Linked DNA regions of Homo sapiens: region 1 is linked to region 2. Evidence: fine-mapped expression QTL. Tissue or cell type: breast. Region 2 holds a variant in brackets; the other region holds the start of a gene. All regions are shown on one strand. Distances are between the middles of the regions. Region 1 holds the start of GAL (galanin and GMAP prepropeptide). Region 2 has its middle 42 kb from the start of ALDH3B2.

Evidence for each region. PIP is the estimated chance that this variant, and not a neighbour inherited with it, causes the effect. A credible set is the group of variants that fine-mapping cannot tell apart.
Region 1: it holds the start of GAL, and the variant in region 2 is the best candidate, but not a certain one, in a credible set for the expression of GAL in breast (GTEx, PIP 0.51).

Annotation. Positions count from the first base shown.
Region 1 is chr11:68,681,906-68,686,286 of GRCh38, forward strand. It overlaps GAL (galanin and GMAP prepropeptide), which reads left to right and starts at 2,639. Exons shown (of 6, transcript NM_015973.5): 1 at 2,639-2,827; 2 at 3,019-3,099; 3 at 3,689-3,743. The coding sequence starts at 3,019. The region is part of intron 2 of LOC107984343 (a long non-coding RNA gene); the gene reads right to left. RefSeq lists enhancers at 1,358-2,033, 2,710-3,385.
Region 2 is chr11:67,714,257-67,718,637 of GRCh38, forward strand. It overlaps the pseudogene UNC93B5. Among named protein-coding and RNA genes, the nearest start is that of ALDH3B2, 42 kb to the left of the region's middle. RefSeq lists an enhancer at 3,656-4,187. The variant T/C (reference allele first, on the strand shown) is at 1,623.

The sequences.
Region 1 (4,381 bases), 970 kb after region 2:
ACAGAGACTTGCTCTGTTGCCTATGCTGGAGTGCAGGCTTGATCGTGGCTCACTGTAGCCTCAACCTCCTGGGCTCAGGTGATCCTCCCACCTCAGCCTCCTGAGCTGAGTAGCTGGGACTACAGGCACGTGCCATCATGCTTGGCTGATTTTTAAAAAATATTTATTTATTTATTTTTAGTAGAGATGAGGCCTTGCTATGTTGCCCCAGCTGGTCTTGGACTCCAGGGCTCAAGTGATCTATCTACTCACCTCAGCCTCCCAAAATGCTGGGATTACAAGCGTGAGCCACTGCGCCCAGTCTGAAGTTTCTTTGAAAGCAAAAAAGGAAACAAAAAGAGTACATAGGCCCAAATGAAGACAGCTGAAAGTTTAATGTACCTCAAATTCCAGCCCATGACTAAGGGATGGACTTTGAGTCTCTTTTCGAATCCATCTCAAGGATTTAGGTTTAGAGTTTGTGCTCCTTTAAACAGACTAAGAGCCTCTGTGACAAAGTAAATAGAGAAAATAAGTGTAGTCAAGCTCTGGCAGGATTTGGAAGGGGGCCTAACGTGGAAGAAAGGAGAAGGCTGGAATTGACTAAGATGTGCTATGCACTGGGCTGGATTTGTTCTCAGCAGAAAGCAAGAAAGAGCTCTGGGATGGTAGCAGGGCTCCCACTACCACCGGGGGCCAAAGGTTGCAGTATTTCTCAGGTAGCCAAGAGGCACCCATGAGCCCAGCCCCTGCCCACTCCCTGATGTCATCTAGACACAAGGACATGGGGCATGAGAGGACATCATTGTCACTTCTCTGCAGAGTCACAGGAACGTGCCCTCTGCTCCTCCGCCTCTCGGCTGTCCTTCTGCCCACGGCTGGCCCAGACTCTCATGGCGACTCACTGTCTCCCACGCCCCCACTCCCGGCAGGAAACCACTTCAGGGTTTACTGTGGGCTCCGAAATCAGCCTGTGAGTCCTAGTTAGGGTCCCCTGTGCCTGACTCTCCTCTCCCCAGGCTGCAAGAAATAGGGATGACCAGAAGTCAAACTGTGCCCTTGGGAACACCCCACCCCTCACCACTGTCGTGCCAGGAGTCTGTTCCTAAGACCCCTCCCCAAGTCCTGTCTCCTCCTCTTCCTCCCATAAACCACAGCAGACACTCAGCCACCAGGCTGCAGCCCTGCACCTTCTCCAGCAGCCGCTGGCCTTCGCCAGAGTTCTTGAAAGCCCAGTTGTCCTTCCCCAGCCACGTGGAGGCAGACGGATCTCTCCTGGGGGCAGCCTGTAGCTGTCTGTGCAAAGGTTCCCAAGACTAAAGTGTAGAGGACAGGTAAGATGACACTGTCATGATCATCATTCGTCCTGTGCCCTGTGGACATCAACCCACAGATGTGACATCAACCCATCTGATATTGAGCCCAGTGGGTGGGGAGATCCTAACCCAGCTGCTGCTGTTGAGGACTTGGGTGGTGTCTGGCCAGTGGGAGGGGAGGTCAGGCGAGTTTTCAGCAGATGACCCCGTGCTCTTCGGAAGCCCGGAGGTGCCACACTGTACAAGTGTGATGCCTGGGATCCTGTGCTCCCCTGATGCCTGGGAATGGGGTGAAGGAACAGCCTAGGCTTGGGTTCTCTCCTGGGTTGTTTCGGGACTTGGCCCCAGCTCAGGAAGGGTTTGTGGAGGAGCCAAGGAGGGCCTTGTTCCTGTGGGATGTCTTTGCCTTGGGCACAAGGACAGCCTCTTGCTGCTGCTCTGCCCACCGCCCACCCCTTGGCGGCCTCTGGGAGTCTGGGCTGCTCTCCCTCTGGACCTAACCAGTTGCCCAATGGCTGGACCTGCTTAAAGCTCCCTCTTACAACTGGACCAGGCAGCCAGGGGAGGCACTGAGAGGCCGAGCTTCTGAGCTGGTGCCTGTGGATGCTCGACGGTCCCGCAGCTCCCACAATGGGATGGCCAAGCAGACCCTGAGATCCACAGCCCCCCTTTAGTGAAACAGGAGGGAGGTCGCTGGGCACAGGGAGCCGGGAACGCCTGCCCTCCCCGCCATCGACGGCTCCCGAGGCCTGAACCTTCGCTCCAGCCCCAGCACAAGCCGGCCAGGGCGCAGGGCCAAGTGTTGCCCGCCATTCCCCGGGTACCCCATGACCTCCCAGCTGGGGCTGGCTCGGACTGAGGAGTCGTCCCTGCCCGTCACCCTCTGGGGTCTCCAGTGCTGCGGAGCTCAGCTGGCTTTTGCAGCGGTAGGGGCTGGGAGGAGAAGCTGCAGGGAGACCGCAGGCGTGGGACGTTGTGGGGGGTCAGGCTTGCTCTGGGGCTGGGACCCCGGGGGGAGCAGTGGGGTTGACGCCACAGCGATGACTTGGGCCACGGGTCTGGGGGCTCTCCCGCGGGGCGATTGGGCTCTGTCTTTCGGGATTAGGGTCTCTCCCACAGGGTTTGGGGTTCTCTCTGCAGATTTGGGGGAGTCTCTCCCGCGGGATGAGGGGGGGCTCTCCGCCGCACCCGCCTATGATGGCCCAGAGGACCCGAGCTCGGGTCACTCCCGTCGCCCTCGGGGCTCGGCGAGGGTGCAGGAGGCGGGCGCTGAGCCGGTGACGCGACTCCGGGCGGCTCCCGGGTGCGCCGCATATATAGCAGCGGCGGCGGTGGCGGCGGCCACACCGGGCGGCGGACACGTGGAGGGACCCGGCCCGCGCCTTCTGCCCCTGCTGCCGGCCGCGCCATGCGGTGAGCGCCCCAGGCCGCCAGAGCCCACCCGACCCGGCCCGACGCCCGGACCTGCCGCCCAGACCCGCCACCGCACCCGGACCCCGACGCTCCGAACCCGGGCGCAGCCGCAGCTCAAGGTACTACTGGCGCCGGGCCGACCCTGCGCCCCCGGGAGGCCTCCCCTTCGGCTTTCCTCTGCCCAGGGACGGTTCTGCCAGGGCCCTGGCCCGGCCGCCGCCTCTGCTCCTCCCCGCAGCCCCGGCACTCCTTGCCTCGGGGCGCAGCCCACTCCGGGTTCCGACCCGCCCGCCCTGTCCTTCCCTTCCAGATGGCCCGAGGCAGCGCCCTCCTGCTCGCCTCCCTCCTCCTCGCCGCGGCCCTTTCTGCCTCTGCGGGGCTCTGGTCGCCGGTAAGTGCGGGGCGCGTCTCCTCCGAGCGAAGGGGACATCAGAGCCGGCCGGGCGTGGAGGGCTTCCTGGAGGAGGCAGCCTCCGCCCTGCCCGCGGGGATGGGGGTGGAAAGTGGAAAGGCGGGCGCTGTCCTGGCTGCGGGCGTCGCGGGAAGGGTCCGGGGCTCCCTGGGATTCCCCCCGCGCGCTTCTCCGAGTGTATCAACAGCCCCGGGCTATAACCAGGCCGCCGGGAGAGCTCTGCGCTTCGGGTCAGCGCCTCGGGAAAGCGAGAAGCTCGCCCGTTCCGCAGGGCTTAGTTAGAATGGAGGGCTAGGAGCCACTGGCGTGGCCTCAGCGTCACTAAAGCAGGTGCAGTGCGCTGAGAGTGCGCGGGCTCAGGCCCTCAAGTGAAGTATTTCGTAAATAAAGTGGTTCCATTTTCATGTCAAATATAGCCGACTTAGGGGTAAACCTGGAATTTCGCGAGCTATCCAAAAGCACATGCATTGTTCTAAGTCCTCTGCCATGCCGGGAAAGCCTGGGTGCACCCATTCAGCATAGGCTCCAGGCACAGCCCTGGCATCTGATCCCCTTTTCTCCCTTCAAGGCCAAGGAAAAACGAGGCTGGACCCTGAACAGCGCGGGCTACCTGCTGGGCCCACGTAAGTGACTGACAGCATGGCCTCCCCACTCCTGACCCCACCTGCCCCTCGCTTTGAACCCTGGCTCCTGCCCCTCCGCCTGCGGCTGGGCAGACCCTCTGGCCTCCCTCTTGACCTCATTGCCCGTCTCCATTGCTCTGCACACTTGATCTGTGTACGGTTCTTTCCAGAAGCTTCTCCTGCCCCGGCTCTGCCGCCCTGTCCCGGGGTGAGATTCCCACCCTGGGCTTTGCTCAAGTTCTCCTGGGCTTTCCCGCCTTGCAGTCCTTACAGGCCCTGTTCTGGGCCTCTCCCCAGGCCCCCGGGTCTCCCAAAACACTCAACTCCTCGGCTTGCAGAGCACCCTAGGTCAGCGGACCCCAAATCCTGCCTCCCTCTTCCCTTTCTCCAAGCTCCACACGGGAATTGCCAGATCGCCTGAAGGCAGCCCAGACAGGCTCCCCTCAAAACAAGGTTCAGGTGACCCTGCCTGCCCAAGCCTGTGTCCCCTCCCTCTCCCTGTCCTGTTGTTGTCACCTGTGTCAGCGGTGTCCCCTGCTGCCTGAGGTGAGCCCTAGCCCTAGATGGGACACTGCAGGCTGACACCTCCCCGTGTCCGCCCCCGCCCCTGTCCCAGGCCTCTACTTTCTCCACATCCT
Region 2 (4,381 bases):
GCAGTGCCAAGCTTGCAGGCGCTGTTTCTCCTTCTCAGCCGGGACTAGAGGGATCGAACTGTTTGCAGCTGCCAACTCTGCAAATCAAACCTGAAGCTAAGCATGGAGAGGGGGGCTTCCTTTCCAGTGAGTCCTCCCAGGGTGGACAACAAGAGTAATGGATTGGGAGTCAGAAGATGCACACTCGTTCTCAGGACTGTAATGTTGGCTCTGTGGGTGATTTGGGTACTTAACTCCCCAGAGCTGCTTTTCCCAATGGTGAGATGAGCTTATGCCTATTGTGTGCTGTGTTCTGAAGTTCTAAAGTGAGAAAGAGGGCATGGCACCTGCCAAATCATAGGGGCCACTATTAACACCTTCACCAGGCACTCAGGACATGAACACTCCTGTCTTGGGGCCCTGCAGGGTGACTTTACCCCCACAGTGCTGCTATGAAGAGACAAGGATCCCCCGGGGTTCACCAGCTGGGCAGAGGAGATGCCATGACCAGACAGGGCACAACATGGGTTCAAGATGCCCAGGTTGGACTCTGCCCAGAATTGGCTATCCTTGAGCAAAACGGCCAAGAGACTGTGGTGCAGTATGAGGCTCCAGCCCCTGCTACAGACAGAGACACCGAGCCAGCCTCTGCCCTGCCAGCAGCAGGCATGACCTCGGCCACTCCACACCCCCAAGGATGACGTTCAAAACTGTTCACAGCTTCGGCCCATCAGAACAGACACTGACATGGATGCCCGGCAGGACTGCCCATGTGTGCTAGCTGTGTGTCACTGTGTGTGCCCATCTGTGGTCAGGGAGCATCCTGGAGCTGAACATGGGCCCACCCGCTGCCTTCTGCAAACAGGGCCCTGTTCCCCAGCAGCCCAGACCTGGGGCCTGGACTCTGGTACTGAGCAGACTGGGCTGGGGCTGCAGGCCTGCTCCTCTCTATACAAAGGCCCATGTCTGTATCTATGCCGTGGATGTACAACAGGCCACTTGCTCCTACCATATGCTCCGTGAGGCAGAGACCAAAATATCTGCTCCAAATGTCACGAAAACAATGCCAGGGTAAGCCCTGTCCCCTGGTATGAAAAGGGAGAATCCCTGATGTGTTTTTCACACTGTCCCTAAGGGGTGTCCACAGAGCCCCACACCTGCCCCGTGTAGCCACGAGATTTCACACTGACCCTCCAGTGTTGATGCGGCCCTGTGCCCGCCCTGGGGTATTAACGGAATGTCCATGGCGTGGAACCCCCACAACTGTCTCCAGGGTGTCCACACCCTACCCATCTGTCCCCAGTGTGTCCATGAGACTTTCCTCCCACCCCCGGAGTGTCCACAGGAAGCCCCACCTGCCTCTGCCATGTCCACAGGACCCTATGTGACCATGGGACCCCATATCTGTCTCTGGGATGTCTATGCCTAGCCAACCACCCACAGATAGCCATAAAGCCCCCTGCCCCGCCCCCTCCAGTGCCCACAGCTATACTCACTGCTGAGTCCAGTATTGTTCAGGGCGCTGCCCACACCCCAAAGGGCAGCTGCCACACAGAGGATCCAGATGTGTTGCAGGACCCGAGGCACAGGGGCCCAGAAAAAGAGGATGAAGGTGAGGAGCAGGTGCACCCCTGCTCCAGCCA[T/C]GAGGGGCACCGGGCGTGGCAGCCACAGGCCCAGCAGGCCCAGGAGTGAGGCGGCTGAGGTGCCCAGGCTGTAAGCCACGAGGAGGTAAGCCAGCCGCTCCAGCCCCACCAAGCACACGCCATAGCCCTGCGGGGGGACAAGGGGTGAGTGTTGAAGTCCGGAACAGCCCAGACCCCAGTCTCAGCCCTCCCCGCATTGCGGGGGGTGCCTCACCCCCCTGCGATAGGTGCCCTAAGAGCCAGGGGAGGAGAAGGGCTGACTCGTACTCCCCGCATCGCGGGGGGTGCCTCACCCCCCTGCGATGGGGGTCCTAAGAGCCAGGGGGGGAAGAGGGGCTGGCTCTTACTATTCCTGAGGGAATAGTTTAGAGGGACTCATTCCCTGCTATGGTGGGTGAGATGTCTATGAAAAGGACAACCAGTGGGGGAGGGTAGCAAAATTTTGAAGTAGATTTCTGAGACCCCCCAGCACAACCAGGAACAGAAACTCCACACTCTGCTGAGCGGATAGTTTGCACATTGGTCTCCTCCCATCTGCCCAGCGCACTCTCCTGTTTGTCCTGAAGAGGAGGAAACCAAACAAGGCTCCCGACCGTCCCTCAGCACTCACTTGAAGGGGTGGTCCGTCCCTCCACACCTGTGGGTATTTCTAGTTGGGTGGGAAGAGACTGAGAAAAGAAATAAGACACAGAGACAAAGTATGGAGAAACAACAGTGAGCCCAGGGGACCGGCGCTCAGCATACCAAGGACCTGCACTGGCACAGGCCTCTGAGTTCCCTCAGTTTTTATTGATGATTATTTTTATTATTTTAGCAAAAAGGAATGTAGTAGGAGGGCAGGGTGATAATAAGGAGAAGGTCAGCAACGAAGATGTGAGCAATAGAATCTATGTCATAATGAAGTTCACGGGAAGGTACTATGACTGGACGTGTGCGTAAGCCAGATTGATGTTTCTCTCCACCCAAACATCTCAGTGAAGTAAAGAATAACAAGGCAGCATTGCTGCAAACATGTCTCGCCTCCCACCATAGGGCGGTTTTTCCCCCATCTCAGAATTGAGCAAATGTACAATCGGGTTTTATACCGAGACATTCAGTTCCCAGGGGCAGGCAGGAGACAGCGGCCTTCCTCTCTCTCAACTGCAAGAGGATTTCCTCTTTGACTAATCCACCTCAGCACAGACCCTTTACTGGTGTCAGGCTCGTGGACGGTCAGGTCTTTCTCCTCCCACGAGGCCACTTTTCAGACTAACTATGGGGAGAAACCTTGGACAATACGCCGCTTTCAAGGGCAGGGCTCCCTGCGGCTTTCCACAGTGTATTGTGCCCCTGGTTTATTGAGACTAGAGAATGGCAATGACTTTTACCAAGTATACTGCTTGGAAACATCTTGTTAACAAGGCACGTCCTGCACAGCCCTAGATCCCTTAAACCTTGATTTCATACAACACATGTTTTTGTGAGCTTCAGGTTGGGTCGAAGTGGCTGGGGCAAAGCTACACATTAACAACATCTCAGCAAAGAAATTGTTGAAAGTACAGGTCTTTCTCAAAATGGAGTCTCTTATGTCTTTCCTTTCTACATAGACACAGTAAGAGTCTGATCTCTCTTTCTTTTCCCTACACTCACTGAACTGCCCTTCCCCTCTGCTGGGCCATGACCACGGAGAACAGGTCCAGTGTCCTCCTTCTGTGGTGCACCATGGAGGCTCAGACTCCATCCTCAAGGCTGGCAAGAAGACAGGGTGAGATGTGAGCCTCCTGATACAGGTGACGGAAGTGGAGCCCACAGGACTGGAACCTCACACTGTAGGGCTGGAGGCACAGACTGACTATTTACTATTCTGTGGCCTGGGGGGCTCAAGGCACAGAGCTCCTTATTAGACAAAGTCACCCAAGTTCCCCAACCTCTAAGGATTTCCTCATAATAATGCAAGAAGAAGAGAAAAGTGAGTGTCCATAGAAGCTTTGGGGCTCTTCCTCTAATCAGGAGAAAGCTGGTGTGTATTCTTTGCTTCTTTCTTTTCTTTTTAAACATCCAACTGCTTTAATTTTCATCTTTTATTAAGGGAAAATATACCACGCATAAATATTTAAAATTATAAATATATATTAGTTCATATAGAATGGCCGGTATAAACATTTATAATTTCCATGCTTTTTCAGTTTACAGTTTCATGACATTAAGTACGTTCACATTGTTTACCAACCATCACTGCCATCGTCTCCAACACAGTTTTATCTTTCAAAATGTAAATTGCACCCATTCACCAAGCTCTCCACTCCTCTCTCTCGCCCACCCCTGGAGGCCACCTTTCTAGTTTGCAACTCTATGAATTTAACTACTCTAGACACTTGATAGATAAGTGGAATCAAACTGTGTTTTATTGTTTTGGAAACAGAGTCTTTTTCTGTCACCCCGGCTGGAGTGCAGTGGCGTGATGTCGCCTCACTGCAACCTCCACATCGTGGGTTCAAGCGATTCTTGTGTCTCAGTCTCTGGAGTAGCTGGGATTACAGGCGTGCGCCACCACGCCCAGCTAATTTTTGTATTTTTAATAGGGACCATATTGGCCAGGCTGGTCTCGAACTCCTGACCTTAAGTGATCCACCTGGCTCAGCCTCCCAAAGTGCTGGGGTTACAGGTGTGAGCCACTGAGCCTGGGCGTGTTTATCCTTTTGGGATTTATTTATTTCACTGACGATAATGTTTTCAAGGTTCATCCATGTTGCGGCCTGCCTCAGAAGTGCGTCTCTGTT